6 separate regions of the Homo sapiens genome follow, and regions 2, 3, 4, 5 and 6 are each linked to region 1. Evidence: fine-mapped expression QTL. A gene starts in region 1. Each other region holds a variant in brackets. All regions are shown on one strand. Distances are between the middles of the regions.

Region 1 (5,075 bases):
GGGCCACGCATAATCCAGAGTGCAGTGCATCAGCCTATAGAGGGCGCTCTTAAGTATCATAGCCAGATGTAAAAGAGCAAAATTCCTATAGGCAAAGAAATGTGGGCTGGGCGTTTTGGAATGCCATTCCTGGAGGGAGGTGTGGGTGAATGATTGCCAATTTTTCCGTTCTAAGCTTATCTTCATAGTTGTGAGCATTTTTCAGGTCCTCAAAAGAGTTAGTATCTAAGTATAAATTTTCTCTTTAAGGTGTTTGCTTAAAGAGGAAACATCTTTAAGAAGTGAAAGCTGAAGAATGGGGCCTAAGATCAAACTTCAAGGTGTTGGTGGCCTAAACGCCTGCCATCAAAGTAACACAACAGAATGATAACTTGGTAAACAGCAGCGAAGCTCAATAGATATTCTTCAAATTGATTTAAGTTGTGATAAAAACCCAACTAATGATTTTAAATATTTCTGTAGCTAGAACAACATAGCAGAAAGACAACATCAAAATATTAACCATGATTACATTCTACATGACTAGATTACAAGGGGTTCTTTGCGACACTCTAATTTTTCTTCAGCGAACTTGTATTGCTTGGGTAATTACACATACACAAAAACCTTACTACTGTTCCTTTTAAAAAATTACTGAATAGAGTTTTTTAAAAAATTGCTAGACGTAGTTTCTTGCGGAAAATAATCAAATTCACGAGATTCTTGAGTCCAAATTTCCTTTATTTAGGTGGCTCCAAATTCTAAAAAAGCTTTTGCCTATAGCCCAATCTCATAGGCAGCATTTGAACAAAACATCCATCCAATGACTAGATCATCCCTTTAAAATCGCAACCTTTACAGTTAAATTCCAGTGGATAGGTCAAGTCATGGAAAAGCTGCAAGATGAGAACAGAAAACTGAGCAGTGCCAATGGGGATTGGAAGCTACCAGGGCTCCAGTATCCCGACTTGGGAAAAAAGAAAATTGGAAAAGGGAATGGAGGGTTGGAGTGCCAAGTATGTGTGAGGAAGAGTAAGAGAGAAGGACCCAGGCCGGGCATGGTAGCTCACGCCTGTAATCCCAGCACTTTGGGGGGCCAAGGAGGGTGGATCACCTGAAGTCAGGATTTCAAGACCAGCCTGGCCAACATGGCAAAATCCCATCTCTACTAAAAATACAAAAATTAGCTGGGCATGGTGGTGGGCGCCTGTAGTCCCAGCTACTTGGGAGGCTGAGGCAGGAGAATGACTTGAACCCGGGAGACGGAGGTTGCAGTGAGCTGAGATTGCACCACTGCACTCCAGCCTGAGCAACAAAGCAAGACTCTGTCTCAAAAAACAACAACAAAAAAAAAAAAAAAAAAAAAGAGAAGGACCGAGAGAAAGATAGACAGAGAGAGAGAGACAGAGAGAGAGAGAGACAGAAAGAGAGAAGTGCAAATCAAAGCAACATGGTACCATGAAAAACCACTCCTGGTCCATTTATTTAACTTCTTCCCTAGCAGCCCTGCTGTGCTCAAACCACTGTGACAGGCTTTCCTTAAGGTGTTAGACAAGAGATAGCACAGAAGAGAGACAAGGCAAAAAATTTAGTACTATTTTCCAGCCTAAACTAAACCTTTATTTTAGTCATGACTTTAAAAAATGTATTTGCGGGAATGACTCAACCCCTTGTTCCACCCCTTGCCTTGTGTATTCCTTCAGTGCCTAAGTTGATATTTGCAGCCACTACCTCACTCAGGATGCTTTGTTTTTATCATTTCAAAATACTCAAGTCCTTGCCCAAGCTGGGCAAAAGTGTCCAGTGGTGTCAAAACAAAGCAAAGCAGACCGGAGAGCCTCCTGCCAGAAAGATGCATTTACCTTCACCAAAAACATCATCCTCTTCATCGACCAGGAGCTCCTCAGCATCAAAAAACTGCATCTTGGAGAGGACAGGCGCGAGAAGCAGCAGGCAGCAGCCCCGGCAGTCTCAGCAGTCACACTGCCGACCGAGGTGATTTCCTTTCCTTGGGTTGCCCAAGCCCTCTGGAGGGCAGCTTCCGCATCTGCCCTGAAGAAAGCAGTTTCATTCATATGAATAGGCTTCTTGAGCCTTGTGAAGAGTGAATCCCAGGTGGGGTAATTCTCACCACTGAGGAGAAAGAATTTTTTGAAGAGGGCTGCAGATCCGGTTGGATATGAATACAGATATCACTCAAAGTCTGAATGCAATGAATTCTATTTCAAAGCAACAACTTTCATATTTCCTTAAAGAGGAAGGTGGGTGCTTAACTTTCTTGCTTATGAATTTGAACACAATGGGTTTTGTTGAAAGAGGGAGTTCATATTTCTCATATCTTGGTTTTGCTTCAATTACAATTTATCTGAAAGTAAAGCAAGCCACTATGTTAAACCAAAGCAGGCATTTAGAGGACAGAGCTTTTATTTTGCTCAGTAATAGTTGCATTTTTCTTTTCTTTTCTTTTCTTTTTTTCAAACCTCTTGCATTTAAGGATTGGAAACTTTACAGCATTTAAACCAAACTGAACCATATCTAGGCTTTATGTGGCTCGATTAAATCTATAGTCAATGAATAGATAACTGGTTTTGGTCAAACATCTTGCATTTCACAATATTTACTCAGTTTGATACTTCAGACTGTATCACTAAAGGAGAAAGAAGAAAATGTAACTCAAAAAGCAGTCCTCCCAAAGGGATGAGTGAACACTGAGCTTCTACGCGAGCACCATTGGCTGGCATCACCATATCGAGCTACCCAACGTGTGCCAAATTCTGTCTGGCTGCACAAACAAACACACATCTCTCTGAGTAATACTGAGACTTCATTTCGGGGTTTCCCAGAGCACTCCACTGTGTTGTAAGATCTCTTAGGTGGCCAGAAGCTTAGAAAATGCAAATGGAGATGACAGTGAGGAGCTGTTGACCCAAGGTGTTTATTTTTGGCACTTTATTTACTGCATGGTTTTGAAGATACTCCCAGTGTTACCCTAGAGAAACTGTCCCCTCCTCCTGTAACTGCAACCTTGAAATTGCACCATTTTCTCCCAGAAGAGACTGTGGACAACAGGGTTGGAGAAATCCAGCAGTGAGAAGGGATCACCCCAGAGGAATTCAGGAATCAGACACTGAGGGTTAACTGAGCAGCAACAGTCAGTTCATCCCTGCATTGGTGGCTGCAGCAGTTCCCAAAGACAGTGTACAGCTTGGGTCCTGCTGGGATCACCAATTGTTGTCAATCAGGGCTGGAACCATCCTTAGAGGAGAGCTTGGAAATGTCTGGGGTGTTTTGGGTGGCACAATGACTGGGGGTTATTACTGGTATTTAATGTCTTAGCACTCAGGGGCCCAGGGATATCAACCTTACCATAATGCATGGAACAGTAGCTCAACAGGAAGAACTGTCCAGCTCCAAATACCAATAATGCCCACCTTGAGACACACTGACAGGCAGAGAACTGGAGTTATCCTTTTCTCTAGCTCTCCTTTGCATCTCCCCTTTCTGACCCTTTTACCACCCCCTACCATGATCCCCACTTGAATGATGTTTCTGGACAAGGGTTGCACTTAGTTACATAAATTAAATTAATTAAAATGGGCCTAGGTGTAGGAAATTTGGATGTGGACTAAAGCTCTCTTTTGTGTGGTTGGGATAAGAGGATGGGTGTCCATTTTGATAATCACTACATTTCTCAACTACTGTCCTATGTCCTTTAATCTCCACAACTTCATGAGGTGGGTGCTATTATCCCATTTTACAGATGAAGCAATGGGGGCTCTGAGGGCTTGAAAAACATTCCTAAGATCAGGCAGCTAGTGAGTGGCAGATTTGACTAATTCCAGAGCTCACTCTGTTACCTCATGTCTGGACAACTTATGGGAGTGACTGCACACAGTCCAGTTCACTGCAGCATCCCCGTGGCTCTTGGGGACCTGCACTACCTCCCTCACCTCCCACCTCAGAACTACCTGGTTACCACGTGAACCTGAGGGCCCTAGCTATTCCACTTCAAAAAGTTAGCATAACCTCTGTAGGCCTGTTTCATTTTAAGTGGGTGGAATTGTGTCTCCCCTGTTGAATTCATATGTTGAAGTCCTAACCCCCAGTACCTCAGAATGTGACCTTACTTAGAAACAGGGCCATTGAAGATATAATTAGTTAGGATGAACTTATATCATATTGGAGGAGGATGGGTCCTTAATCCAATATGACTAACTTCCTCATAAAAAGGAGAGATTTAGACAAAGACATAGACATAGGGAGGATAGTATGTGAAGATGAAGGCAGAGATCCACAAGCCAAGGAACACCAAAGACTGCCAGTAAACCACCATGAGCTAGGGGAGAGGCCTGCAAGAGATTCTCCCTCACATCCCTCAGAAGAACCAATCCTGCCAACACCTTGACCTTGGACTTCTAGCCTCCACAGCTGTGATGCAGTAAGTTTCTGTTGCTTAAGCCACCCAGTTTGTGGTACTTCATTACAGAAGTCCTAGAAAATAATATACTTTCTCATTTGGCTTGTTTTGAGGATTAAGTAGGATAATTTATGTAAAGAAGCTGACACAGTACATGGTACACAGTAAATACCCAGTTATAATTATACGCCTAAGTCTCTCACAGGGACGCTTAGGATATTTCCCAAATTGAAGGCTCAATGGGGATAGAGAATGAGAAGTCACCACACTCCATATAAAACCTCAATAACCCTTAGGAAGTTTCCCTCAGTCTCCTCTTCTCCAATTTAGATATCTCAGAAACACAGCTAATCATCTCAAAGAACAAATCACAAATGCTACCACGAACTCCTTGAAAGCACAGAGGATAGAAAACATGGTTCTTGCTCTCCAAAGTTTACAATTACCTTAGAGAGATATGACATACATGCATGATGTGTTAACTAAAAAGAAAAATTAATAAACTACATATGCATGCATCAATATGGATGAGTTTCAAAAACATAATATTGACTTTGAAAGGTCTCAGAAAATTATAAATGGTATAATTATATTTATATGAGTGTCCAAAATGAGCAAATAAAAAAATGTAGGTAATCGCTAACACAGAGTGCCAGCAACAGTTTTAAGTGCTTTGATT
Region 2 (5,075 bases), 44 kb after region 1:
ATATATATCACTTTAAGTAACTACTTTAGGATCAGGGTCTTATTTATACCAAAGGTCTTTGCATGTAAAAGCCAGTTGGCTCAACCAAATGGCCAAGAAAAGATGTCCCCTTCTCTCCCTAACCTCCATGTATCTTCTCATACCAGATGGTACAATCTCTGAAATTCCATCTTCAGAGGGTTATTATTTAGGGTTAAGTTTGATCCTTTTTTTGGTCACTAATGCTTCATGGTGAATGGAGGTTGGGAATATTGCTCTGCGATAAGACTGCCTAGGTTTGAATCCTAAATTCTACTTAGTTGTGAGGCCTTCGGCAGGATATTTAATCAATCTATCCTTTAGTGTCCTCATTCATAAAATGGGAATAATTTTTGTTCCACTGTCATAGGGCTGTTATAAGATTTAAATAGATGAAACATGTAAATTCTCAGTAAACATTCATTCCTACTTCATCTGGTGGGAGAATTTCAAAGCCAAGTGAACACCTCAGGCCAAGATGTGAAAAGGTCCCAGAATGGAAATCGTGACAGAATGCTAGTGATATAAACCTCACCTACTGCATATATTAGCTTAGGCCTGGGGTGCACACTACTGAGACTCACATATTTTTGGAGAAAGGTTTAACATTATTTTCTCTATTTCATGAACTACTTCCTTCTCATCCCCAACTTCCTTTTATAATTGGCCTCTCAACATTTTCTATCACTCCTTATGAGATAATGAGAAACAATGGGCTTAACTTTCCTCTCTCAGCTGTCGTGCATCCTATCTATAGGTTGCAAAGATCCCCTCTCTGCTCCACTCCCACTGGTCTATTCCTGGGAAAACCGAAAACCAAAGAAGGAACATGCAATAGTTGCTTGAAATGATAGGGAAATTCTTTTTTTTTTTTTTTTTTTTTTGCTGTTTCCTTAGCCCTGACATGACATTCCTTTTCTGTTTTTAAAAGACACAACACTGCACATTAACTGTCCTGTGGGAGAGACCACACCCTCTTCCAAGTCATCCCAGTCCACATCAGAAATGTGTCTTCTGCAAACCTGACACAAAAAGCTCCCCATTTTGAAAAGGTCCTGATAGAATTAATATGAATTGAATCGCATTCTTTTTACTGTAACCAACTATCTGGTGTTAAAAAAGACTTTTGCAGAATTCTGGGCAAGAATTATTAATGCATGTTAATGGGAAGCCTCCAGTTCTGCTTTGCTGGGGAAGGAAAGGCCAGCTCTCACAACTTCCTCCACACCATGTTGGGACCCAGAGCCAAATAAATGGTCCATCTGTCTTCCATATGATGAGTTTCAATTTGGAAAATTCAAGGCTAGTTTGAGTTATTGGAAGCAAGTTGGTGGTATAGCATGACAATTAAAAGCACAGGTTTTAAAACTGACAAATCCGGGTTCAAATCTCCATTTAACTACTTACTGCCTTTGTAAGTAACCAGTCTCTTAGCTCTGCAAGATACAAATAGAGATACATCCTTCATATACATTAAATGAAGTTATGTAAGTAAAGCATCAAGCATATAGTAGGAACTTAATAAATTATACTGCTGTAGGTTGGCTAGTGACCATGTTTTTGACCACTAAATATAACACCGTAGGAAAGGAAGCAAGTGGAAAAGGGACAGCCCATACTTACAGAAGCCCAGGTTAAAGCCCTCTGCTAGGATGCATTAAAGAATCTCATCTTAGATAGGCTCCTCAGCCTTGAATATTTAATGCAATCCAAGTTTTCTCTGCCATTCCATAAACTCAGCACTGTTGCTTCTAGAGCCATTGAGAAGCTGCTAAGAATCTCAATAAACACCATGAATGACTTTAAATTACTCTCCTTTCAGCTTTGTCCAGATTCAGAAATTACAAAGCAATAATGTGCTTCCCGATTTATCTACTGAAGTGATATGAGTTGCGCCTGTTATAGTGGGAAAGCTTCCTTGGACATCTATATTTTCCCATATCACCAAGAGGGAGTGAAATCAAGACACCTGGTCATCTAAAATGTGACCTAACATACTCTTTTACAGATACATGCATTTTTATATAAATGGATTTTTAGAATAGTACTGTGTATTCCCTGATGTGAAGATAAGTTCATGAGTAAGCCTGTGGTTTCCATCTCTCTCCTTGCTCTTGTCAGAGCCGTAGGTGCAACTATGGTTTGTGAATTAGGAAGGCAGTTGGCCCCTCACACCTATATGGTAAAGTGTGAATGAGGAGTCATGTGTACACAGAGCTCTGTAACTCTCCAGGTGCACAGAAGCACCTGCCACATCCCCAGGTGCAAGTGGGTATAAAGGCAAGTGTGTTGTGGAGTCACAGGGGGCTTTTGGGCATTGGTGCTTTGCTCCACTCCCATCTCCCTGCCGCCAAATCATCAGAGGCTTCCTCTGGCCTGATACAGCTGGGCTCTGGGAAGGTAAGTGAGCTTATCCAGGATGGGAGCAGAGAAGGTGAGTGAAGCTGGACAGAAACAGAGGAATGGAGATTGGGGCACACATGCTTTCTCTGGCTCTCTGAATGAACACATTCATTCATTGTCCCAGTCTTCTATCTCAAATTCCTCTGCTTTACTTCTCTGTGGGATAACTTTCTCCACCTCTGTAGGAGATGCAAAAACAAGGGTGGGTCTCAAATAGTTGAAATTCTTTTCTATGTTGCCACTGCTTTTGCTCTCCTTCATTTGAACAAAAGGGTGTAGAGTTTGGATGAAAACCAACAGGGTTATAAAGAATTTTATCTTTGGATAAGGCTTTCAAGGGCTGCTTTCTATGTCCTGTGAGCCTAGAGTTGCCTCGTGGGTAAGTAGAAAGCACTTATCAACCCAAACAAATATTTTCCCAGGTTCCCTTCCCCATAGAGCCATAGTGGATACTAAAATGAAAACAGTCAGCATTAATTCTTGCTTACCCTGCGCACTTTTTCTTCTGTAAAGCAGGAGGAATTCTGAA[T/A]GTAGGGGAGGAAAGAGATAAGTTTGAATGACAAAGACTGAAGCCTAATGGAGGGAAAGGCTTTCTCTCTCCACCTCTAGGGAACATTTCCTTGCCTTTGGCATCTGCTGCCCACCTCCTGACCCCCACAGCCCCCACTGCCCTGCATCTGATTATGCTAGCCAGCTAGGCCTTTCCTGAGCTTGCTCTGGTTCCGGAACTGGGAGTATAAATCTGTACTCAGTGGGCCCAGGGTCTCCTGGCCAGCCCTTCAACTGATTAAGCCTTGAGTCACCCGCACTCTGGTATGTTTCGCCTTAGTGGGTAACACTATAGACTCTGGAGCTATATCATCCAGGGTCGAATTCCTACCTCTGCCACTTGCTAATTGTGGAAGCCTGAGCAAGTCACATAACCTCTCTGTTCCACAGTGTTGTCATCTATGAAATAAAGAGTATAGTAACAGCTACCTCACAGCCTTGCTGAAGGGATTCAATGAGGTGCTACTTGAAAGAGATTTAGAAGGGTTTCTGACAAAAAATTCAATAAATGCTAATTATGTTTATTTACGCCTAACATGGCATAGAGAGGAAGGGGGCTCACCTTGTCCCTTGGCACTGCAAAAGCAGAGTTTGGCAGACCTTTCACAGACCCTGAGCTGGGCCTCCCCTCAACTTTTTGCCTTATGAGGAATGGACTGATGAAAAATGACCCTAATCCAAGGTACTTGTCTCAGTAGCAACCTTTTAAAGATTAATAATGTTTTAAGAATCTCTAACTTCTAAGAGATCTCTTTTTTAAGTAATAAAAGAAAACATGTTTGTGGTAAAAATCCATATATTTTGTCCATAAAGTATAGAAAATGAAAACCAAAAGCATTTCTCAAAATTCCATTTTCCAAAGGCTGTTAACAATCATTGGCTTTGTATAAAGCAAAATAAAGGAATAATAGTTTTGTTTGGTTGTTCTACTTCCAGGATCCACATTCTTTTAGTTCTGCTGTCTATTCAAACAAAATGAATTATTCAGTAGTTTGTGTGACTGAATGTGAATGAAATTAATTTAGTGCAGATTTCTTTTTTAGTTTCTAGGTGACTCAGCTTGCCTTGTAACTATTGCCCTAGTAAGATTCATTCTCTGCTGATGTTTCATTTTGCTAATTACATATTTCTGAGGACAAGTGAGCTTATCACTTATTCAGGCACCAAATATTTATTAAGCCAAGAACATTTTTTTCCTTATATTTGAGCCCAATGACTTGCTTACTTTGTGGCTTCCTAAGAATCAAATAAAAGTAGTTGGCTTATGTGCCTATGCTTCTCTACATATAAAATGGGTACAATATATTCGTTTGTCAGATAGTCATAATAAGGTCCTAATAAATGTGAAATACCTCCACTAAAAACGATCTAATATTAAGAAAAGAAAAATAGCTCAGAGCAGGCTGCATTATGTAAGGTATGCAAAATTTACCTGGCCCAGAGAGACAGGAGTATGGGATTTCAGTTACACTGGGAACCCCTTTCTTTGCCTGGGGAGCACTTGTTTAAAGACATGTTGTTATTTCTTTTCTTCCCTGCCTCACTCATTGTCTTCATGTTTCTGGAATTTGTGATACTAAGACCAATGTACAGCCAATCAGTAGCTTAGGTTATTTTAATGTGAATTCTTGGTAAACAATTTAGGAACTACCTCTTCTTTTTTCCTTTAAAAACCTGCTTGTAACTGCTGCTAATTGGAGGATCTACTCAGGGGACTAGAATCTATGCTCCTGGGTTGTTGCAGTCCGCAAACTTGGCCCAAATAAACTCTCTACTTATGTTAATTTTGCCTCAGGTTTTTTCCTTTAGGTTGAACACGTACACACACACACACACACACACACATACATATATACACACACACACAGGCACACACATATATATACACGTATACATATATATGTATATATGGCCTCACTACTGAGGCTGTATTTCCAGAACTTCATCTTTTTAAACAAAATGACTAATCGTAATATATGTGTATACACAAGGCAAGTATCATACAAGCTTTGGAATCTGATCTGGGTTCTAATTATGGCAAAGACAGCTAGTTGTCCCCCAGTACCCATTCTCCACTTATCCCTTAATATTAAAGCCCTGAGGCC
Region 3 (5,075 bases), 72 kb after region 1:
CTCATGCCTCTTTCTGCCTTCATTCATTCGTTTATTCATTTGTTCAATAAACATTAATTGAGCACCTACTATAATACCAGCCAGCACTTTACTAGAGTTAAAACAATGCACAAAAAATGGCATGGCCTCTCATGGTTCTCATGATTCTTATAGTCTACAGGGGAAGATAGATCTCAAACAAATAATTACTACTTTTTCTTTGAGGAATAAATTGTATTTGTCTTCAGGCCTTAAAGTCTCATCTGTCTTTTCAAATCTCTCTTGCCACCTCACCCCCACAAATTCCAATCTCCCTCTGCTTTTGTTCATTATTAAACCTTCATCACAATTCAAGTGAAAGGTGTCCTGGAACTCTCTGTTCTTTTTTTGAAGAGTTCATCCCCTGTGTCCTCCAGGCACAGGTGAGTCACTGAGCTGGGAGGTGGCTCTGTGGAGTACGGACTGTACCACCAAGTGGCCTTGCACAAGTTTTTGATAACACCTACCAGAGCCACGAGAGTTCTGAGAATTCTCCCCACAGGAAGAGGAAGCATTTGGAATAGGAAGTAAGACTGAGCTGCCAAATATAGCACAGCTATATAAGAAGCCAGGTTGAGAAAGAGGAAACATGCACTCTTTTCAGCTGCCAGGCAGCACTTTGCTTTGGGGAAAAACAAACAAACTGTGCCATGGCTGAAAGCCTAGAGGAGCTGGAACTCAAATGCTGTGTGGTGTGCCTGCTGGGACCCTGTGGCTCTGGAATGGAACGCTGTGGGAATCCCAGTGCCAGGCTCTGGGAGGGTCTCTTGCTCAACCAAAAGCAGGGAGAGTTCTCCATAACCAAGGGCCTGCAGCAATTATTTGATTAACTTCACCAAGTTTCTGCTCTGTTTTCTGTTTTGGCTATGGTGACATGGACTTTTGTTATTATTATTATTAGTCTTCTTAATACTGCTGGAGAGAATGGCCAGTATCTTAATATCTTCAATAGATAAAGAAAAGCCTATTAAAGGCAAAATACCATGAACAGAGGCTATTCTGTGTCTACACGGTAAGCTGGATCTTCTAGTCCACCTGAGTAGTGGCCTGCTTCTCAGAGGAGGTAACTTCTCTGATATTGTTGGTCTTATCCTGTGGGTTGAAGAAGTGAGCACAAAGGACCTGCTGATTCATTTTCACATTCTCATCACTGACACTGCCTGCTCCACCACGGGCGCTCAATACTATGACAAATCCTCACTTGGTCAATTTTGTGAATGTGACATACTGAAAAATGTTACCATAAATAAAATGAGTGGGTTTTCCCTATGTACATAATAAGCAAGATATGATCAAATGAAGTTTCACTTTACCAATATGCAGGCAATTATTATCTTTATAATTGTTACTTCATTTTCCTTTGGCCTCTCTAAAAGTCCTGTGCTCTCTGACCTTATTCTTCTTCCCCAGACACCTTGCACTCTTGGCCCTTCCTTCCTGCCCTCCCCATCTTCCTTCTCGGTGATCTTAGGCACCCCCATGGCTTCAACTGTATCATCTCTGTCAATAACTCCACATTTACATCCATGCCCAGGCTTTTCTCCCCGGCCCCAGAGCTGTTCTTCCAACTGCTGTAGACATTTCTACATTGATATCCGGGAGGGACCTCAAACACAACATACCAACAAATAAGCATGCTGTAGCCCCACCTGCCCTCACCCCTAGTTTGCCCCCGACCTCTATTTCCTATCATGTTTAGTGGCATCATCCCAGGCAACCAATGCTGGAAACACTGGAAATACCTCCAATGAAAATGTCAAATGGAACTGTTTCTGCCTTATTTTTATTTTTTAAAAATATTTTAAAACTATTTTTATTAAAATCAGTAGTAAGAATCTGCCTCATGTTTTACTGTGATGCCAAGACAAGCATGGTAGCTGAATGATGGTCCCCCAAACACATCCACATGCTAGTCTCTAGAACTGCATGGTGAAAGGGACTTTGCAGATATAATTAAGTTAAGCATTTTTTTTTTCAACCATGTTGGTCAAGCTGATCTCGAACTCCTGACCTCGTGAGACACCCGCCTCGGCCTCCCAAAGTGCTGGGATTACAGGCGTGAGCCACCGTGCCCAGCTAAGTTAAGGGTCTTGAGATGGGGAGATGGCCCTGGATCATGCAGGAGGGCCTGATGTACTCAAAAGGGTCCCCATAAGAGGGGTCAGTCAGAGAAAGAGATGTGAGGACAGTGGCAAAGGCTGAAATGCTGTGGCCACAAGCGAAGGTGGCTCTAGAAGCTGGAAAAGGCAAGGAAACAGGCTCCAAGCCTTGAGGGGAATGCAGCCTTTGAGTTAAGCCTTGTAAGATCCATTTTGGACTTCTGGCCTATAAGACTTGGACTTCTGGCCTATAAAACATAATAAAATTACACTGTTTTAAGCCACTATATTTTGGGTAATTTGTTACAGTAGCAATAGGACACCAATACAATAAGAGATTTCAGATATGAAAGGGAGCAGGAGATGATTTCCAAAGAAAGTGGCCTCTCTGACATCTGCTCCAAGAATAAAAGTGGTAGAAATTGGTCAGGATGCCAAGGAAATTTGATGAGGAGATAGGCAAGATGATGGCTCTGGAGGAGCCATTGGCATTTGTGGGTCTCCTTCCATTCCCTCTAGGGAAGTGCCAGGGTTGAGAAGCACTGTTCTTGGCAGTTCAGCAGGTGCTACTTTCCACTTGGTATATTGGGAAACTAAGCAGGGAGAGGTCAATAGCTTGCTTGAGCTCATGTAGCTTGTTAGGGATGAAGCCAGGACACTGATGCAGGATGGCTCTTGTCCATGCTGACTGCTGCCTCACCTCAGAGAAGGCAACAAAAGCAGAGACTGGAGCTCTAATTGATGCAGGGTCTTGCT[G/A]GTGGCATCCCACTGCTCTTGGCTTCAAAAGCATGGGCGAGTGATGTTGGTCTCGTGGGGAAAGGCAAGCCCCTCGCAGTAGGGAGCACAAAGGGAAGAGGAGCTTACTAAGACCAGTGTCAAAAACAGGAGAAGACCTGCTTCTGTAAGCAGGTCAGACAGAATACAGTGTTCTTTATCCCTTGCTTCTCTGCCTTTCAACCTTTATCTTGATTAGCAGTTTCTCTGAATTCACTTTCCTCTTTCTGGTAACTCAATCCTAAATACTCCAGCCTGAGTTGTTAATTTGGTCGATTAAACAAGAGAAATCCCTTAGAAATCGTCTTACCATTCTGAAGTCCATATTCCTCCAGAAATATTTACTTCTGCCAGATAAATACCAATGAATTCGTAGGAAATGTTTCCTCCATTTTAACTTTGATCAAACTTCATTCAAAACCATGAAACCAAAAGAAGAAACCACAAAGCTCGTTACCACCCAGATGGCTCCCAGCTTATGAATAAGTTGTATTCCAAAAGTTGGCTTGTAAATCAGCGGTTCAGTATGTATGGTGGCCTTTCCCGCAGAAACCGTGTTTTAAATGGTGGTCAAGTTTCAAGCTCTCCCATAAAGTCTATCTAACTCATGAGATAACAAGTAATATTAACAGATAATAGAATTCCAGAAATTCTTTATGATTATTTTTTGGGAGGAAAGCAGGATAAGGAAAGAACGATACTTCCTGTGGGTGGAGGTGGGGACTCAACTGTCTCCAAGCAAAGAGGCCACACAGCCTTCTACTGCCCTGGGCCAAGTGGGTTTTGTGGCCAGCAGGAAAGGCCCTGTGGTGTGGCATGAGGCAGGAGAGCATGGGAGAACGGATGCCCAGAAGAACTTCCAGGAGAGAGTTAGGAGGAAGTAGTTCAGAGAGACAGAGGATCAAGAACAGCTTCAAGAGAAGAGAAAACTGGAGAGGAAGCAAATGGAAAATGTTTACAGGTATTATAGTAGGTTATGAGTTTAATTCTTTTTAATGTTTGCTATAGTTTGAATGTTTGTCCCCCATTAACCTCAGGTTAAAATTTAATCCCAATGTTGGAGGTGGGGCCTAATGGAGGTGTTTGGCCATGGGGACAGATCCCTCATGAACAGTCTCGTGCCCTCCCTGGGGATGATTGAATCATCACTATATTAGTCCCCTCTTCCCACCAGAGCTGGTTGTTAGAAAGAGCCTGGCCCTCCTTCCTCCCCCTTTCCTCCTCTGTCACCCCATGAGCTCTACAGAGCTGGCACCCCTTCACCTCCCGCCTTGAGTGGAAGCAGTCTGACGCCTTCACCAGATGCAGATGCTGGTGCGAGGCTTCGTGTACAGCCTGCGGAACCATGAGCCAGATAAGCCTCTTTACTTGACAGATTACACAGTTTTTCCTTTAGGGCAAAACAAAATGAACTGAGACAGTGTCCTTCAAGAGATTCAAGTGAAAATTAGAATTATTTTAAAATTACTTTTTCTTGTTAGATGGCATTTTTTGACTAGAACTCTATACTAGGATTGGGCTATGGGAGCGCCAGGATTTATATGGGCTTTATAAGTAGGAGCCTGTGCTATAGATCCTATATTATTCAGGCAAGCAGGAAAGAAAAGATTTCCTTCCACTTCCACTCCGTAAACGTTTCTTAAGCCAACATTTTTTTAGTGCTTGCTAGGTCTCTGGTGCTACAAGGGACACTAGACAGGATGAGATACAAAAATAAATAAGATGGACTTCTTGCCTTTGAGGAGCATATAGGTTATAGGGGAAGACACCACTGCCAACAAATGATCCCCATGCGTGCTACACTAGAAGTGTGTGCAAGTAGCATAGGGACACAGATAAAGAATGGCTTCTCTGCCTGGGTGGTTGGGAAAGGTTGTTCTCTCTAGTTGGGACCCTGCTTGAGTCTGTCCCTTATATCTTCTGCCTTCAAATATCTTCCCATGTTACTTCATCCTGTTCTTCACTTTTTCATCTACAGAATCTATGAAAAAAAATTTGTTTTTACAATGACTCATTGGAAAAGAAGAATTTGGCAATGAGCAGTGGAGGGAGGCTAGGAATGCCAACAGAAATGGTGGTTACATGTTTTAATATTTTATAAATTTTATAAATTAGGAATTGGGTTTATATATATGTCCACATATGTATATGTACATGTAGGTATATATGTGTGTGCATGTATAT
Region 4 (5,075 bases), 130 kb before region 1:
CCATCCTGATGAAAAGGGCCAGATATTAAGACAGCTGTTAGGCAGTTAACCTGTAATTAAAAGGCTGTGGCAACTTCAGTTCCATGACGACCTCCGACTTTAACACAGTCTCGAGGAAATTTGTCCAATTGTTCATATGCCAGCCGCCCATCTTCTCCTAAATACAGAACATTAAACATGAATACCAATTCAAACAACGTTTTTATTAATTACTCAAAGTAACATAGTGCCATTTGTTTAGGGATGGGTTGCTATAATATGCTATGCTAACTTTTGGTAAGGAAAAGTTATCTTTTGTTATTCCTAATTATGTCATTGTTTTCCAGGTAATGCTTAGAACAACCAAGAACTTTTGAGCTAATTAATGCCAGAGACCAAAAGAATGCCAGGGTATGAAACAGAGTAGAAGTCTTATGGCCATTTGATGTTGATGATTTCATATAATCGATTTATTTTAGAGCAATTGTATGGATTATATTTTAAGTACATTAGGGATTTCAATATGGCTAATGCACTGAACTTTTACATAACTTTTACTTGTATACATTATATATCGATACATCTAAATGATATGTGGTAAAATCAATCTTAGGCTTTCAAACTTCAGCTAAAAATTACTTTTTACTATGTAAACATACAGAGATGCCTTCTACCAGCCACCAGCTAGTTCAGTTTTGTCCGTAACGCCACCTTGAACAGTTAGGATGCAATTGCAAATAATTTTAATGTTTTGTTCTATTTTTCTACTTTAAAAAATGATTTAGAAAATGAGAAAATAAAATGCAAAGACAAGTGATAAGAAGCAGGCTTTCATACATGTAATGCAAGTGAGACAAAGATGGAAATAGTTGTGCCTAATCAGAAGTTCAGCTGGGTGTGGTGGCTCACACCTGTAACCCCAGAACTTTGGGAAGCCAAGGTGAGTGGATCACTTGAGGTCACGAGTTTGAGACCAGCCTGATCAACACAGTGAAACCCCATCTCTACCAAAAAATACAAAAAAAGAGTTAGCTGGGTGTGGTGGAATCCACCTGTAGTCCCAGCTACTTGGGAGGCTGAGGCAGGAGAATTGCTTGAACTCGGGGGCAGAGGTTGCAATGAGACGAGATTGCATCATTGCACTCCAGCCTGGGTGATAGAGAGAGACTCCATGTTTAAGGTAGGCTAGGCTAAGCTATGATGTTCTGCAAGTAAGATGTATTAAGTGCATTTTTGACTTAACAGTATTTTCAACTTACAACGGGTTTATTGGGATGTAACCCCATTGTAAGTCAAGGAGCAGCTATCCTCAAAATTGAGTAAACTTAAAACTTCAGTTCCTCCATGGTGGCAAAGGTGAACAGCCCAACAGCCATTTAGGATGGCTGCTGTCATACTGGACAGTGCGCATATAGAACAATCCCATCACCATGGAGGGATCTGTTGGACAGCTCTAGGTTAAAATGTCGAAATCATTCCATACTAGTTGGTAAATAGTTGCAGCCCTGAGTCCTTTAAGTGCCCGCAATGACCTTCTGCCCTTTGTCATAGGGCATTTTATCAATTCCTATTGAAAATACTATCCTCACTATATTAATTCAGTCATTTGTGTAAGAGAAAAATGTGCCAGTATTTGTGTATTAGGGTCAAAGAAGATTCATAATATTGACTTCAGGGGGGTCTCAAACTTTATATTAGAATCACCTGGGAGGCTTCAAAAAATCCTTAAAAAATCCTGATGCCAAGGAACACTTAGACCAATGAAAGCAGAATCTTTGGGAGTAGATTGTTTAAGCTTCCCTGGCAAATGTGCAGCCAGTGTTGAGCACTGCACACTGGTGGTGTGAGAGGGCCCAGGGCTGATATGAGCAGTGTGCATGAAGAGCTAAGGTGAAGCAGGTATGGTGATGGCTTCTGGAGATGCTGCTGTTTGCACAGCTCCAGTGAGGCCCGGGGCACATTCTGTAGGATCAGCTTCCTTAGGTTACACTGGAAATAGAAGCTTCGTTGGCTATGCTTTATAAGCGCCTGGCTTACCTTCATGGTTATTTTAGAATATGAAGGGATAAAGGAGTTTAAACTAATAATACCTTGGTACATTTTTAGAGAATTAAATAATTTCTATGCCTAATACAACCATAAGGAATAACTTTTATTCTTTAAACAAATATATACTGGCTAAGATTTCTGTGGAAGAAATCATATATTCAATAGCAGAATGAAGCCTTGTTAAACCCATAATTGTAAGAAAGAGGGCCTAACAATAAATGGGATTTTCACAGTGATTATAAATGCCATGAGATTCTTCTTCATGTTGTTAAGTTAGTATCACTAAACAAGGGTAGCTTTTTTCTAAGCTGCAGTATTGATTGGATTATGTCTGAGGATTTCTAGGAGCATAGTTTTTATACTTTAAGATTGTGTTGTTGAAGTAAAATTATTTATAATAATTATTTATACTTTTTTCTTTTTTTTTTTTTTTGAGACAGAGTCTTGCTCTGTCACCCAGGCTGGAATACAGTGGCATGATCTCAGCTCACTGCAACCTC[C/T]GTTTCCTGGGTTCAAGTGATTCTCCTACCTCAGCCTCCCAAGTAGCTGGGACTACAGGTGCACCCCACCACACCTGGCTAATTTTTGTATTTTTAGTAGATACATGGTTTCATCATGTTGGCCAGGCTGGTCTCGAACTCTTGACCTCAAGTGATCCACTCACCTTGGCCTCCCAAAGTGCTGGGGTTACAGGGGTGAGCCACCAAACCCAGCTATTTATACTTTTTAATACAGAGTTAAGAAAGGCTTTCCCCACCCTCCCAAGTCCCCAAAAAAGAATAAATGTATAATGCCTGCTAGGCATGAACCTTCATAAAATAAAGTGAAGAGGAAGGATTATCTGGATATTTCAGAATAAAATAAGTACTCCAATTCTTTTCTTAGGTATCAGGGCTCAGATGGGCAGAGGCCACAGGGCAGTCAGAGGTTAACCTGGGAGTCAGGGTGAGGCTGAGATACCTGGGGATTTACAGCATTCCCTGGGATGCATCTCTGGTACCTCACCCAATTTCTGTCCTCCAGGGAATGTCAACCCCACCTGGCAACACAGCCTGGATTCCTATTGCCTTTGCTTTATGGTTTGACTTCTGTGTTCTTGATTCTAAATAGTACACAGACTGATCAATCCATATAGAAAGTCTCCAGACAATATAGTTCACTCTCAGCATCCAGACAGAACAAGGAGTTGGGGTGAGATAGACACTGATCAGTTCTTCGTACTCTGTGTGTGAGAAGACAGCCTACAGCGGGGAAACTGCTAAACAGGGTACATGAAACTTCTCCTTACTGGAGAAGGGAACATCTAAATGGGAACATCCGTTAGAGAGTGCCAGAAGCAAACAATCATGTAAACAACAACAATAAAACTCACCCAGAGACAAGAGGGTTTCTGAGGCCACATTTCTGATTTCTTCAGTATCAGATTGACACAATGTCACCAGCATTTTAATGCTTTCAGTAGCCTATGGGGGAAAAATAGGTTAAATCGTGTTTTGACATTTAGGTCTAGAGTACCACGAGACTTGGCATTTCACAACTGGTGGGAACTTTAGCCTCACTTTGTTGCCCAGGCTGGAGTGCAATGGAGCAATCATAGCTCACTGCAGCCTTGACCTCCTGGGCTCAAGCAATTCTCCTGCCTCAGCCTCCTGAGTAGCCAGGACTGATTTTTAATTTTTAACCTTTGGTACAGATGAGGTCTCACTATGTTGCCCAGGCTAGTCGAATTCTTCTGCCTTGGCCTCCTAATGTGGTGGGATTACAGGTGTAAGCCACTGTGCCCGGCCAGCTGGTAGGAATGCTAAAAACCACTTTACCTATGGGGTCAAACCTAGCTGAGTGTCTGAAACCCAATATTCCTGGGTGCCACTCCGGATGCACTATATCAGAATTTCCTGGGATGGGGCCCAGAGTTCTTACTTTCAGGAATTCTGATGATCAGCTAAATTCCTCATTCCACAGCACACTCCTGGTCTAGAGGAGTGAAGTGACGAGCTTGCTTTTCCAGAGTAGAATCCATTTTCCCTGGTTCTTTCCACTGAATCTCACTGATTCCAAAATGGCTCTAATTAAAAAATTCTTACTATTTAGTTTATATGCTAAAATAGAGGAGGAGGTAAAGGCCATTAATGACAATTCTTCTATTTGTTTGTTCCACAAATATTTATTGAGCACTCCATGAACCAGACTATTCATAAGGCATGAGAGATTCCACAGTAAACCAGACATGGTTCTGGTCCTCAAGAATTTACAGTCTAGTGGATTCAGAGTATGAAAACCCATGCAGATCACTGTATCCTTATGTCTTTATTTACTTTGTCTGTATCACAGACATCTGTCACTGATATATCACTGGATATCAGGAAAGCACCCAAATAGCAATCACTGTGGGCTTTCTATTTGGGCACCTGAAGGTAATTTTTTTTTTAACCAAGTAACAAGGCAAAATTTCCTACAGCTGTTTCTTTTTTTTTCTTTGAGACAGAGTCTCATTCAGTCACCCAGACTGGAGTACAGTGGCGTGATCTTGGCTCACTGCAACTTCTGTCTCCTGGGTTCAAGCGATTCTCCTGCCTCAGCCTCCTGAGTAGCTGGGATTACAGGTGTGCGCCACCACGCCTGGCTAATTTTTGTGTTTTCAGTAAGGATGAGGTTTCACCATGTTGGCCAGGCTGGTCTCAAACTCCTGACCTCAGGTGATCCACCGGCCTCAGCCTCCCAAAGTGCTGGGATTACAGGCATGAGCCACCATGCCTGGCCCTAGAGCTGTTTTTGATCACAGGCCATTAACTTTTTCTTTTGAGGTATTAATTCCTTTCTTTATCAGGCCTGCAGCTCTTTTCCAAGATTTTGGCAAGTTCTAAGGTGTGGCCTTCTCTCATTCTTTTTTTTTTTTTTTTTTTTTTTTTTTGAGATGGAGTCTCTGTCGCCCAGGTTGGAGTGCAGTGGTGCAATCTTGGCTCACTGAAACCTCTGTCTCCTGGATTCAAGCGATTCTCCTGCCTCAGCCTCCCCAGTAGCTGGGATTACAGGTGTGTGCCACCATG
Region 5 (5,075 bases), 120 kb before region 1:
CTCGGCCTCCCAAAATGCTGGGATTACAGGCATGAGCCACTGTGCCGGCTAATAAGATGTACTTTTCTAATACTGACCTAAAGGCAAACTGGTTCCCTTGGGCTAGTGCAAAACATGATTGCTTTCTGCCACTTATTGACTTTAACAAAACAAAGTCACATGTAATTACTGTTTAAGGGAGAAAAATACTAAAACTAACATACGGTGCAAAGAAGACAAGAAATACTGCTAAAAAAGTACTTTCAAACATGAAAGAAAAGCTGTTATATACACTCAGCTTAGCCTGGCTCCAAGCTGAGCTGCCAGGGGAGCTCCAAGGCTGGGCTTTACCTCAAGGATTTTCAGAGCCAGGCAAGCTGCTTTCTGGAGCTGGAGGTTTGTCTTTGTTAGTGCTTCACAGTAATAGAGCAAGGCCTGAAAGAGAAGGAGGGACCTCATGAAGGCATTTTGGTTTGTTCGTAGTTTAAGAGGTATACCTCATTCTTACTCTCTGAGATAAACTATAGCATATAACCTACACATTTTGCACTACCTTCAGAGCAAGAAAAAAAAAGCCATTGAAATTCATATTAATTAAAAGAGTCGTTTATTCAATAAATTGATCCCTTATGTTCTCCTAGATCTACTATGACTCTAGGAGAACATAAGGGATCAATTTATTGAGTAACATAATGACCGTGGGCTTTTATTGGCCACCTAAAGGTAATTTTTTAAACCAAGTAACGAGGAAGGCAAAATTTCTCAGAGCTGTTTTTGATCCCAGATCATTAACTTTTTCTTTTAAGGTGTTAATCCCTTTCTTTATGTCCCATCATAAAGGCCTGCAAGCTCCTGCCCCTTGTCTCATGTGTCATTCCAAGATTTGAAATATTCTCCTAGAGTCCATGACTCTAGGAGAATATAAGGGATCAATTTATTAAATAAAATTGGGAGAGAGTTATGATTCTGGCTTTTAAGGAGCCCTTAGATGTAGTAGAAATGCTAAGACTGTTTAGAAGGAACTGAAGAGAAGAAATGTATTAGGTCCCATAAGAAATCTACAAGGTAAGTCAGTCACTTGGAGAAGAGACATCTTACGGAGTGCCAGGGTAAGTTTCACAAAAATGTTTGAACTGGAATGGAAATGATGGCTTAGATTTCAGTAGGGAAGTTGATTGAAAAAAAGGTATTCAGTCAGAAATAAGGAAGACAGGAGGAGGCAGTACATTCCAGTGAGGAGGGTGGTAATGTCAGTTTGAGATTTGCTGAGTTTGATACATGGCAAATGAATGCTCTGTTTAAAAAATCTCTGCATAAAAGTACATTATCTTTTTTTTTTTTGAGACAGAATCTCGCTCTGTGGCCCAGGCTGGAGTGCAGTGGTGTGATCTCGGCTCACTGTAACCTCCATCTCCCGGGTTCAAGAGATTCTCCTACCTCGATTACAGGTGCCCACCACCACGCCCAGCTAATTTTTTTTTTTTTTTTTTTTAGTGGAGACAGGATTTTACCATATTGGCCAGGCTGGTCTTGAATTCCTGACCTTGTGATCCGCCCACCTCGGCCTCCCAAAGTGTTGGGATTACAGGCGTGAGCTACTGCACCCGGCCAATTGTCTTATTTTTACCAAGCTAATTTCTTCCTAAATGGTTGATAAAATGTGTAGTACTTAACATTAATTCAAATGAATAAGAATCACTATATGTCATATTGGTTCATAGGAAACTTAATTACTCTTGAAGAGAATTGAGGGTGGAAAGAGAGGACTAACTTTTGATTTTGTTGGGCTATATTGTGCATTTCTTGCTATTTGTCTGAATTACTTTTATTTTCTATTTTTATTTATTTATTTATTTTTGGAGATGGAGTTTCACTCTTATTGCCCAGGCTGGAGTGCAATGGCACAAACTTGGCTCACTGCAACCTCCGCCTCCCGGGTTCAAGCGATTCTCCTGCCTCAGCCTCCCTAGTAGCTGGGATTACAGGCGGATGCTATGATGCCCAGCTAATTTTTGTATTTTTAGTAGAGACAGGGTTTCACCACGTTGGCCAGGCTGATCTCAAACTCCTGACCTTGTGATCCGTCCGCCTCGGCCTCCCAGAGTGCTGGGATTACAGGCGTGAGCCACTGCACACGGCCCCTGTTTTCTCAGTTTTATAGGACAATTCCATTTAAAAAAATTGAAAATATAATTTATATACCATAATATTTAGACTACAGCATGTATAATTCAATGGTTTTTAGTATATTCACAAATCATCCCCATCATCTGATTTCAGAATATTTTCATTACCCCAAAAAGAAATCCTGTACCCATTAGTAGTCATTCCCAAGACCCTTTCTCTCCAGTCGCTGGCAACCACTAATCTACTCTCCATTACTATGGATTTGCCTACTTTGGACATTTCATATAAATGAATTCACACAATATGTAGCCTCCTATGTCTTGCTCTTTCATTTGGCATAGTATCTTCAAGGCTCATCTAGGTTGAAGGATGTATTAGGATTGCATTTCTTTTTATGGCCAAAAAATATTCCATTATATGGCTAGACCACATTTTATTTATTCACCAGTTGATGAACCTTCAGATTGTTTCTACTTTTTGGTTATTATGAATAATGCTGCTATGAACATCTGTGTACAAGGTTTTTTTGTGTGGACATATGGTTTAACACTCTTTTTTTTTTTTTTTTTTTTTTTGAGAGAGTCTCTCTTGGTAACCCAGGCTGGAGTACAGTGGCACCATCTCAGCTCACTGCAAACTCCGCCTCCTGGGTTCAAGCCATACGCCCACCTTAGCCTCCTGAGTAGCTGGGATTATAGGTGCCTGCCACCACACCCGGCTAATTTTTGTATTTTTAGTACGGATGGGGTTTCACTATGTTGGCCAGGCTGGTCTTGAACTCCTGACCTCAGATGATCTGCCCTCCTCAGCCTCCCAAAGTTCTGGGATTACAGGCGTGAGCCACCGCGCCCAGCCAGTTTAACACT[G/GT]TTTTTTTTTTTTTTTGAGATGGAGTGTTGCTCTTGTTGCCCAGGCTGGAGTGCAATGGTGCAATCTCGGCTCACTGCAACCTCTGCCTCCCGGGTTCAAGCGATTCTCCTGCCTCAGCCTCCCAAGTAGCTGGGATTACAGGCATGCTCCACCATGCCCAGCTAATTTTTTGTATTTTTAGTAGAGATGGGGTTTCTCCATGTTGGTCAGGCTGGTCTCAAACTCCCGACCTCAGGTGATGCGCCCGCCTCGGCCTCCCAAAGTGCTGGGATTACAGGCGTGAGCCACAGTGCCCAGCTCTGTGGCTTAACACTCTTAAAGTTTTAACACTCTTAAAGGAAACAAAGATATGCAGTATAGGTTATTACAGCAAGAACAAAAGCAGTAACAGTAACTAGCTCTTTACTAGACCTAAATAGTTAGAGCCTGGGCTTTGGCTTTTGAAAACCTCTCTCTGGCTTGCCTTTTGGCCTCTACTCACTTGAGGGTGAGCAGCCAAAAGGGGAGGAAATAAGCCTCAATCCACAAGTGGGCAGCTACACAGGGACTAGCCTCCAGTACAAAAGGAACAAGGTGACTGTCCCTGAAGTGCCACTTGCCATCAACCCCCTCCAAAGCTACCATTTCCAGAGGTGGATATACACCAAGGTCATCTTTAGCATTTCATCCCTATTGAAGCATTGTTATAATGCAAACATGCCCGAGAGGAAGGACAATTTAAGTTGTGATCACCCATTTAAGTCTTGGAATATGTGGTTTTGGTAAGGGGTAAACCTATGGTTTGATAGTTAGCCTTCAAGTCCCTTGATATGAGTAAAAGAGGGAAATGGCAGGAGTTCAAGGCTGTAGTGAGCTATGATTGCACCACCTGGGTGGTGCATGTCCAGCTTGTGTAACAAAGTAGGATCCCGCCATTAAAATCCAAAACAAACCTGAGAGACAGAGAAATGGGCAGGGGAAAATAGAGAGGAGTCTTGTGCTGAAGTTCATCTACTTTATAATTTTAACAAGGGCTGGCCCTGGAGGTCAGAAACCAATCGATGGTGTCTGTGCAAAATGCTGAGTCATAATTCATTTAGTTTGATTATGTTGGTGGAAATATTTGTCTCCCTCATTTCAGGAACACAAATATTGTAACCATGTGTGTAAATATATCTGAAAATATCAATTCACTTGTCCCATGAAGAGATGACTAGGTACTTGTTAGGTGCCAAGCTAACATGCTAGGTGATAGGGCAAACCTGTCTATGTTAACTTCAGAGATGATAGCTGACCCTGTTAATTTTGGGGTTACTGAATAGGTTGCTCACTTTACGTATTTATTTATTTTTATTTATTTATTTATTTTTTGAGACAGAGTTCTTGCTCTTGTCACCCAGGCTGGAGTGCAATGGTGCGATCTCAGGTCACTGCAACCTTCGCCTCCTGAGTTCAAGCAATTCTCCTGCCTCAGCCTCCCGAGTAGCTGGGACTACAGGTGCCCACCACCACGCCCAGCTAATTTTTTGTATTTTTAGTAGAGATGGAGTTTCACTATATTGGCCAGGCTGGTCTCGAAGTCCTGGCCTCAGGTGATCCACCCGCCTCGGCTTCCCAAAGTGTTGGGATTACAGGCGTGAGCCACTGCGCCCGGCCTATTTATTTATTGTTAAATGCCTGTTGAGTCATAAGGTTGCTCACTTTAGTTTGAGTGGTTGCCTAAGAATTGGTGGCTGCTTAGATTCATAACAATTCCAGGAAGCAAACAGAAGGCACATTATAAAGCCAGAAGCCCCTGTCACCATGCAGAGGCCACCAGCATCTCCTCTGACCAGTCCTGGATAATTAAAGAAGCAACCACATCTGAATGCAACAGTATAGTTGGAGGACAGTGGATATTTCCTACTTGTCTAGGTGTGGGGAAAAGCATAAAATAATGAACCAACACACACAACTTTTATTTTGTCTCAATAGCTATGATCCTTGAAGCAAGGTTCCGGGTTTACAGTGACACCAGCTCTCACAGAGGCATTTTTGTGTTGCTTTAGTGCTTTGCATCTAGTTTTAAGAACTTAATGTAATAACTTTTGCTATTCCATATAAGAAAATATGGAAAGGGTTCA
Region 6 (5,075 bases), 36 kb before region 1:
CTCAAGGGATTCACAGCCTCCCAAGTAGCTGGGACTACAGGCACGCACCACCATGCCTGGCTGAGGCAGGAGAATTGCTTGAACCCGGGAGGCGGAGGTTGCAGAGAGCAGAGATTGAGCCATTGCACTCCAGCCTGGGTGACAGAGCCAGACCCTGAAGAAAGAAAGAAAGAAGGAAGGAAGGAAGGAAGGAAAGAAGGAAGGAAGGAAGGAAGCAAGGAAGGAAGGAAACATCAAGCCAAAGTGTAATGCTAGGCACAAAATATGCACTCAGTTAAATGACACCTATTATCCTATTATTATCATCATCATCACTAAGGTCAAAGGTAAAAAGACAAATGGCCTTACCTAAACAAAGCTTTGTGTTTTTATACTTTGCTGTGTTTTCCTACTTAAGTTGGTCTTACTAGAACCTATAATCTGAAGCGATAAGTTCTGGCACAGTAATATGATTATTATGAAGTTGTAACTCCATTGTCTAAGCTGGGGTCCTCTGTGAGGGGGTGTGGGGCAAGGAGGTAAGTCATCTTCAACTCACCCTGCTAATATTTTCTGCAGACAAAATCTGATTATGGCAAGTAAAGTTGCCTTAGATAAGTTGTATCACTTTTTCTCAAAAAAGGGCAATTGAGAGCCAAATAGAGATCTTCCTTTTTCTCTTTGTGAAATTTCCTTTGGTTGTCCTTTTTTGGATCTTTAGAGAGCTTGATGGAGGGATAAGAAAATAAGAATGAAGATCAATATGCAAGGTGTTGCCTCTTGAACTTCACTGCAATGAACTAGCTCAATTTAACCTCCCGTGTATACGTTCCCATATAAGACATTACTTTTACAATTCATCACTAAGGGAATGTGTCCTTTAAGGAACTGCTGTATTTTGTATGCCCATCTTTCTGCTAGCAGGAACTTAGGTGATAACTTCCTTTGTTCCCCTTTCTGCCTGGTTACAAGGAAGCTCAGAGTAAAATTTACTGCTCCGTCATAACAAAAACATATTTACTTTCTCTGGCTCCTCCTTTTGATACTGGTATTCTCCTTTCAAAATTGTTCATTATTGTAACCTGTCTCAACTCAACATCAGGGAGTAGTTTTTTTTTTTTTTTTTTTCAGTAAACTTGAACCACCTCTTAGCCTTCTCTCAATTACTAGGTGTGAGTTCAAAGAGGCCTTAGCAGCTATCTATTGCTTGACAAAAGTCACAAGGAAATTTCCACTGATGTCCATTCATTGCCCCATAATTTGTTCCAGCTGTTTGTTTCAGTTTTTGGAAGCCACTGGATCATGAAGGTTCAGGGACAATGTGGGAACAAGTAGTGTGATCATTACCGTAAATCTCCCACAAATCTTGATATAGGAAATAATTATCATTCTCATTGAATTATCCTCATAAAGGAAACTATACTCAGGCTAACATGGGGCCCATGAAGATAGCTTCTTTTGCACTGATTTGAAAAATGGGCACTTCTGGAAGAGATAACATATGAGTTAAGTCAGTGAATCACAGCTATTGTTCTGGAAATTATATTCAAATCTAGTCAGTCCAAATCTGAGAACTCTATTTGTGATGCAAATAAAAAAAATACTTCTACTTAGCAAACCAATGCAATTTTGCATATCATTCAGATTGGTTACCACTTTAAATCTTTTCTGATAGAGAGATAGAAGGGTAAACCATGCGTGAATTAACCACATCTGACGCTATTCATTTTCCTTCAACTGCAGGTAATTATCCTGCATAATTCTCCTATGCATAAATTAAAACTGCATGAATTAACAATGAGCTTGTTTTCCTACATTCAGTAATTAAGACAAAATTGATCAAGGGATACTTTACATGTGGGCACGGATCAGACAAAAGTCCTCACAAAAGAAAAGGAATGATTCCTTTTTTCTCTCAAGTTTGTTTTTTCTCCATTTTCCTCCCCTTTTGTGGGGTTGTTCAGATCTCTGAGGCGTCAATCGTTTGCAAGAGGAAGGAGAAGGCACGCCACTGATATGGCGTTATTTATCAGCATGCATTGCTTACTTGGAGAAAAAGTGCCCATTTCATTTCCTGATGATAGGGCATCTTTGCAGACACACAGCTTACCCAGCTGGAATAATGAACCTTTCAGATGGAGGATGTGAAAAATCTTCTTCTTGATTATAATAGAAGCCTGAAGAGTCTCATCAACGCCTTGGTATCAACTGAGAACCTCAGCCTACGTGGACAGTCTCTGTTTCGAGTTGCTAAGCCAAAAGATCTGGCAGCCACAACTCAGCTAAGTTATGTGGGAGAACTCGGGCTTTTTGAACATGCTACAAACTGGCAGTTGCTGTGGGAACTGTGGCTCTGAATTTGGAGTCTGTGTATTTACATCCACAGCCGCAGCACAGCCCAGACTCTGATGCCAGACGGCCTAGGTTTAAAACCAAGCTCTGCCTCTTAGTAATTTTTCAGAGCCTCCATTCTCTCATCTATAAAATGGAGTAATTACCTCAGGGTGTTGTGAGCACTCAATGAATTAGTACATGTGCCTGGCACATTAGAAATGCTATTTAGTGATAGCTATTACTTTTATAATAATATAAAACATGTTTATTTAGATTGGATGTTTCATTGTATGAGAAGCTTGGCCAGGCGTGGTGGCTCCCACCTGTAATCCCAGCACTTTGGGAGACCGATGCAGGGAGATGCTTGAGCCCAGGAGTTCGAGACCAGCCTGGCCAACATGGTGAAACCCCATCTCTACAAAAAATACAAAAATTAGCTGGGTGTGGTGGCATGAGCCTGTGGTCCCAGCTACTCAGGAGGCTGAAATGGGAGGATCGTCTGAGCCCAGGAGATCGAGGCTGCACTGAGCTGTGATCTGGCCGCCGCACTCCAGTCTGGGTGACA[G/C]AGTGAGACTCTGTAGTTTTCTGTCAATATGCAATATGAAATATGTGTACACATATCTGTGATTCAGAATTTGCATTTATGTGTTGTTGTTGTTGTTTTGTCTTGCTTTTTGTTGTGGTAGTTGTTGTTTTAAGAGACGGGGTTGTCAAAGCTGGACTTGAACTCCTGGGCTCAAATGATCTTCCCACCTCAGCCTCTGGAGTAGCTGGGACTACAGGCACAGACCACCACACCTGCCTTAGACTTCGTATTTATTTTTTGAAAATTTCGATGGCTTCAAACTCCTCTTGTGCCCAGGAAGGCCTTGCCTGTGTACCTACACTCAAGATCTATGATTCACCTAAAGGGAGATGATAGAGGGAAGGTCATTTTTACCATATGCAGAATCTTATGTGCCAGGCTTGGCCAGGCTTATACTCCCCCAGCTGGATTATAAAGGAGTGAAACTAGTCCCCTACACGAAAAACTATGCATCCTTTCAATAGGGCTTTTTTCAGTACCTTTAGCCTGATTACTGTATATTCACATTTATGAAAACATCTTGAGTTAATGCAGCCCCTTAGTCCCTTCCTGCTTTGGTTATTTTCTTCCATCAGTGAGGGAAAGAGCCATTTTGTGACAACCAAAGAACAAAACCAAACCAAAACAAAAACTACATCTGGAAAACATCCTAATGTGAAGAAATACACATTGAGGATCTGGAAAGAAAAAATGACCCTTAAAAAAGAAACACCACGTGCCATTTCTATCCTATTTTAGGCCAAAGACCATTATGACAAAATTCAAAGGGCAAACTTTTTTTGGAATGTCATGGGAGCCTGAAAAGGGAGCAATTCCTGACCTTTATGTCATTACAGGGGCAGGTTTCCATTTGCAAAACCAAGTGTCCAACTGAGGACATTAGTCGTGTTGTAAGAGAAAACGGTCATACCTCAAATAGGCCATAGTTTGGTGATTGAAGGGGGAGGGCAGGAAGAACAAATCACCTCTCCTCCCTCCAGAGAAACACAGTTTTTGCTGCCTCCAGGCTGGCTAAGTGGACCTCCCGGGGTGGAGAGCGCCCAGTGAGGAGTCAGAACATCTCAGTGCTAACCAGCTAATCCATTCGTTTGGTTTCCTAATTTGTGAAATTAGAGACATTGATATTACATCACAGGGTTGTTCTGTGGTTTAAATGAGACCATGGTTGTAAAAGTTGTTCAAAACTGCAAAAATCCACAGAGATATAAGGCACTATCACTGGGACTAAAGTATCGTGATGACTATTCTCAACTGGACCTTGAACTTAAACTTGAGGAACAGCAGACTTTAGGTATCAAAGAAGGAGGCCTGTGCAGAAGAGAAGCGGTAGAAAAGGAAAGACCAGCAGTCAACTGGCTGGAGGAAGTAAGGGATCGCCAGTTGTGGCAGAATGTACTGCAGGTGTCAGAGCATAGTAGTCAATCCAATTACTTTTTCTTTTTCTTTCTTTCTTTTTCTTTTTTTTTTTTTGAGACAGAGTTTCAACCTTGTTGCCCAGGCTGGAGTACAGTGGCGCGATCTTGGCTCACTGCAACCTCCGCCTCCTGGGTTCAAGTGATTCTCCTGCCTTAGCCTCCTGAGTAGCTGGGATTACAGGCACCCGCCACCATGCCCGGCTAATTTGTTTGTATTTTTAGTAAAGCTGGAGTTTTACCATGTTGTCCAGGCTGGTCTCGAACTCCTGACCTCAGGCGATCCACTCGCCTCAGCCTCCCAAAGTGTAGGGATTACACGCGCAAGCCACCGCGACTGGCACTTTTCCTTCTCTTTTTCTCCATCTCCTAAGTGGGACCCCAATTTGAGGACACTTCCTGAAGTAAGGTTTGCACTACCTATACTTGCTACATTGAGACAGCTCTGCTTTGAAAACAAGTTATTTGGATTCCTGTTTGTTCACATGCTAGATTAGCCAGTTTGAAACTAAACTCCTTCTCAATGGTACCAACTCCACTTTCCCAAATCCTCCCCCGGCAAACAAACCAAAATGTGCAACAGTTTGCTTCTAATATACAATTTAAGAATGGGTTTCTTAGACCAATGTTCTGCAGGAGGAGAAGGTGAGCTTTAGATTTGGCTGTTCTGTGACTGCTACTATCATGTTATTTACCTCACAGGGAAGAAATTTGATAGGAATAACACAACACTGTGGTCATATTTGACCTTTTTCTGTGTCTGA

Which allele goes with the higher level. Alleles are on the strand shown, and positions count from the first base shown. SD is a standard deviation of normalised expression in the study named. Not every link is listed here.
In carriers of allele G in region 5, the expression in B cells of the gene that starts at base 1,964 in region 1 tends to be higher than with GT alone (small effect, 0.34 SD a copy in Fairfax 2012).

What was found. PIP is the estimated chance that this variant, and not a neighbour inherited with it, causes the effect. A credible set is the group of variants that fine-mapping cannot tell apart.
Region 2: its variant is the best candidate, but not a certain one, in a credible set for the expression of RIPOR2 in whole blood (TOPMed, PIP 0.59).
Region 3: its variant is the best candidate, but not a certain one, in a credible set for the expression of RIPOR2 in esophagus muscle (GTEx, PIP 0.51).
Region 4: its variant is the best candidate, but not a certain one, in a credible set for the expression of RIPOR2 in whole blood (INTERVAL, PIP 0.89).
Region 5: its variant is the best candidate, but not a certain one, in a credible set for the expression of RIPOR2 in B cells (Fairfax 2012, PIP 0.52).
Region 6: its variant is the best candidate, but not a certain one, in a credible set for the expression of RIPOR2 in testis (GTEx, PIP 0.78).

The regions. Positions count from the first base shown.
Region 1 is chr6:24,933,997-24,939,071 of GRCh38, forward strand. RIPOR2 (RHO family interacting cell polarization regulator 2) reads right to left here and starts at 1,964. Exons shown (of 22, transcript NM_001286445.3): 1 at 1,842-1,964. The coding sequence starts at 1,902. LOC105374981 (a long non-coding RNA gene) reads left to right here. Exons shown (of 3, transcript XR_007059514.1): 1 at 1-68; 2 at 250-374. RefSeq lists an enhancer at 2,677-2,846.
Region 2 is chr6:24,978,404-24,983,478 of GRCh38, forward strand. It overlaps a transcript of RIPOR2 not described here. Among named protein-coding and RNA genes, the nearest start is that of RIPOR2, 45 kb to the left of the region's middle. RefSeq lists an enhancer at 2,335-2,905. The variant T/A (reference allele first, on the strand shown) is at 2,951.
Region 3 is chr6:25,006,220-25,011,294 of GRCh38, forward strand. It overlaps a transcript of RIPOR2 not described here. Among named protein-coding and RNA genes, the nearest start is that of RIPOR2, 73 kb to the left of the region's middle. RefSeq lists a silencer at 2,847-2,999. The variant G/A (reference allele first, on the strand shown) is at 2,874.
Region 4 is chr6:24,806,317-24,811,391 of GRCh38, forward strand. It overlaps RIPOR2 (RHO family interacting cell polarization regulator 2), which reads right to left. Exons shown (of 22, transcript NM_001286445.3): 21 at 3,401-3,491; 22 at 1-157. The coding sequence ends at 57. Among named protein-coding and RNA genes, the nearest start is that of ARMH2, 9.9 kb to the left of the region's middle. The variant C/T (reference allele first, on the strand shown) is at 2,529.
Region 5 is chr6:24,818,212-24,823,286 of GRCh38, forward strand. It overlaps RIPOR2 (RHO family interacting cell polarization regulator 2), which reads right to left. Exons shown (of 22, transcript NM_001286445.3): 20 at 331-414. Among named protein-coding and RNA genes, the nearest start is that of ARMH2, 22 kb to the left of the region's middle. RefSeq lists a silencer at 2,703-2,831. The variant G/GT (reference allele first, on the strand shown) is at 2,973.
Region 6 is chr6:24,897,863-24,902,937 of GRCh38, forward strand. The region is part of intron 1 of RIPOR2 (RHO family interacting cell polarization regulator 2); the gene reads right to left. Among named protein-coding and RNA genes, the nearest start is that of RIPOR2, 36 kb to the right of the region's middle. The variant G/C (reference allele first, on the strand shown) is at 2,879.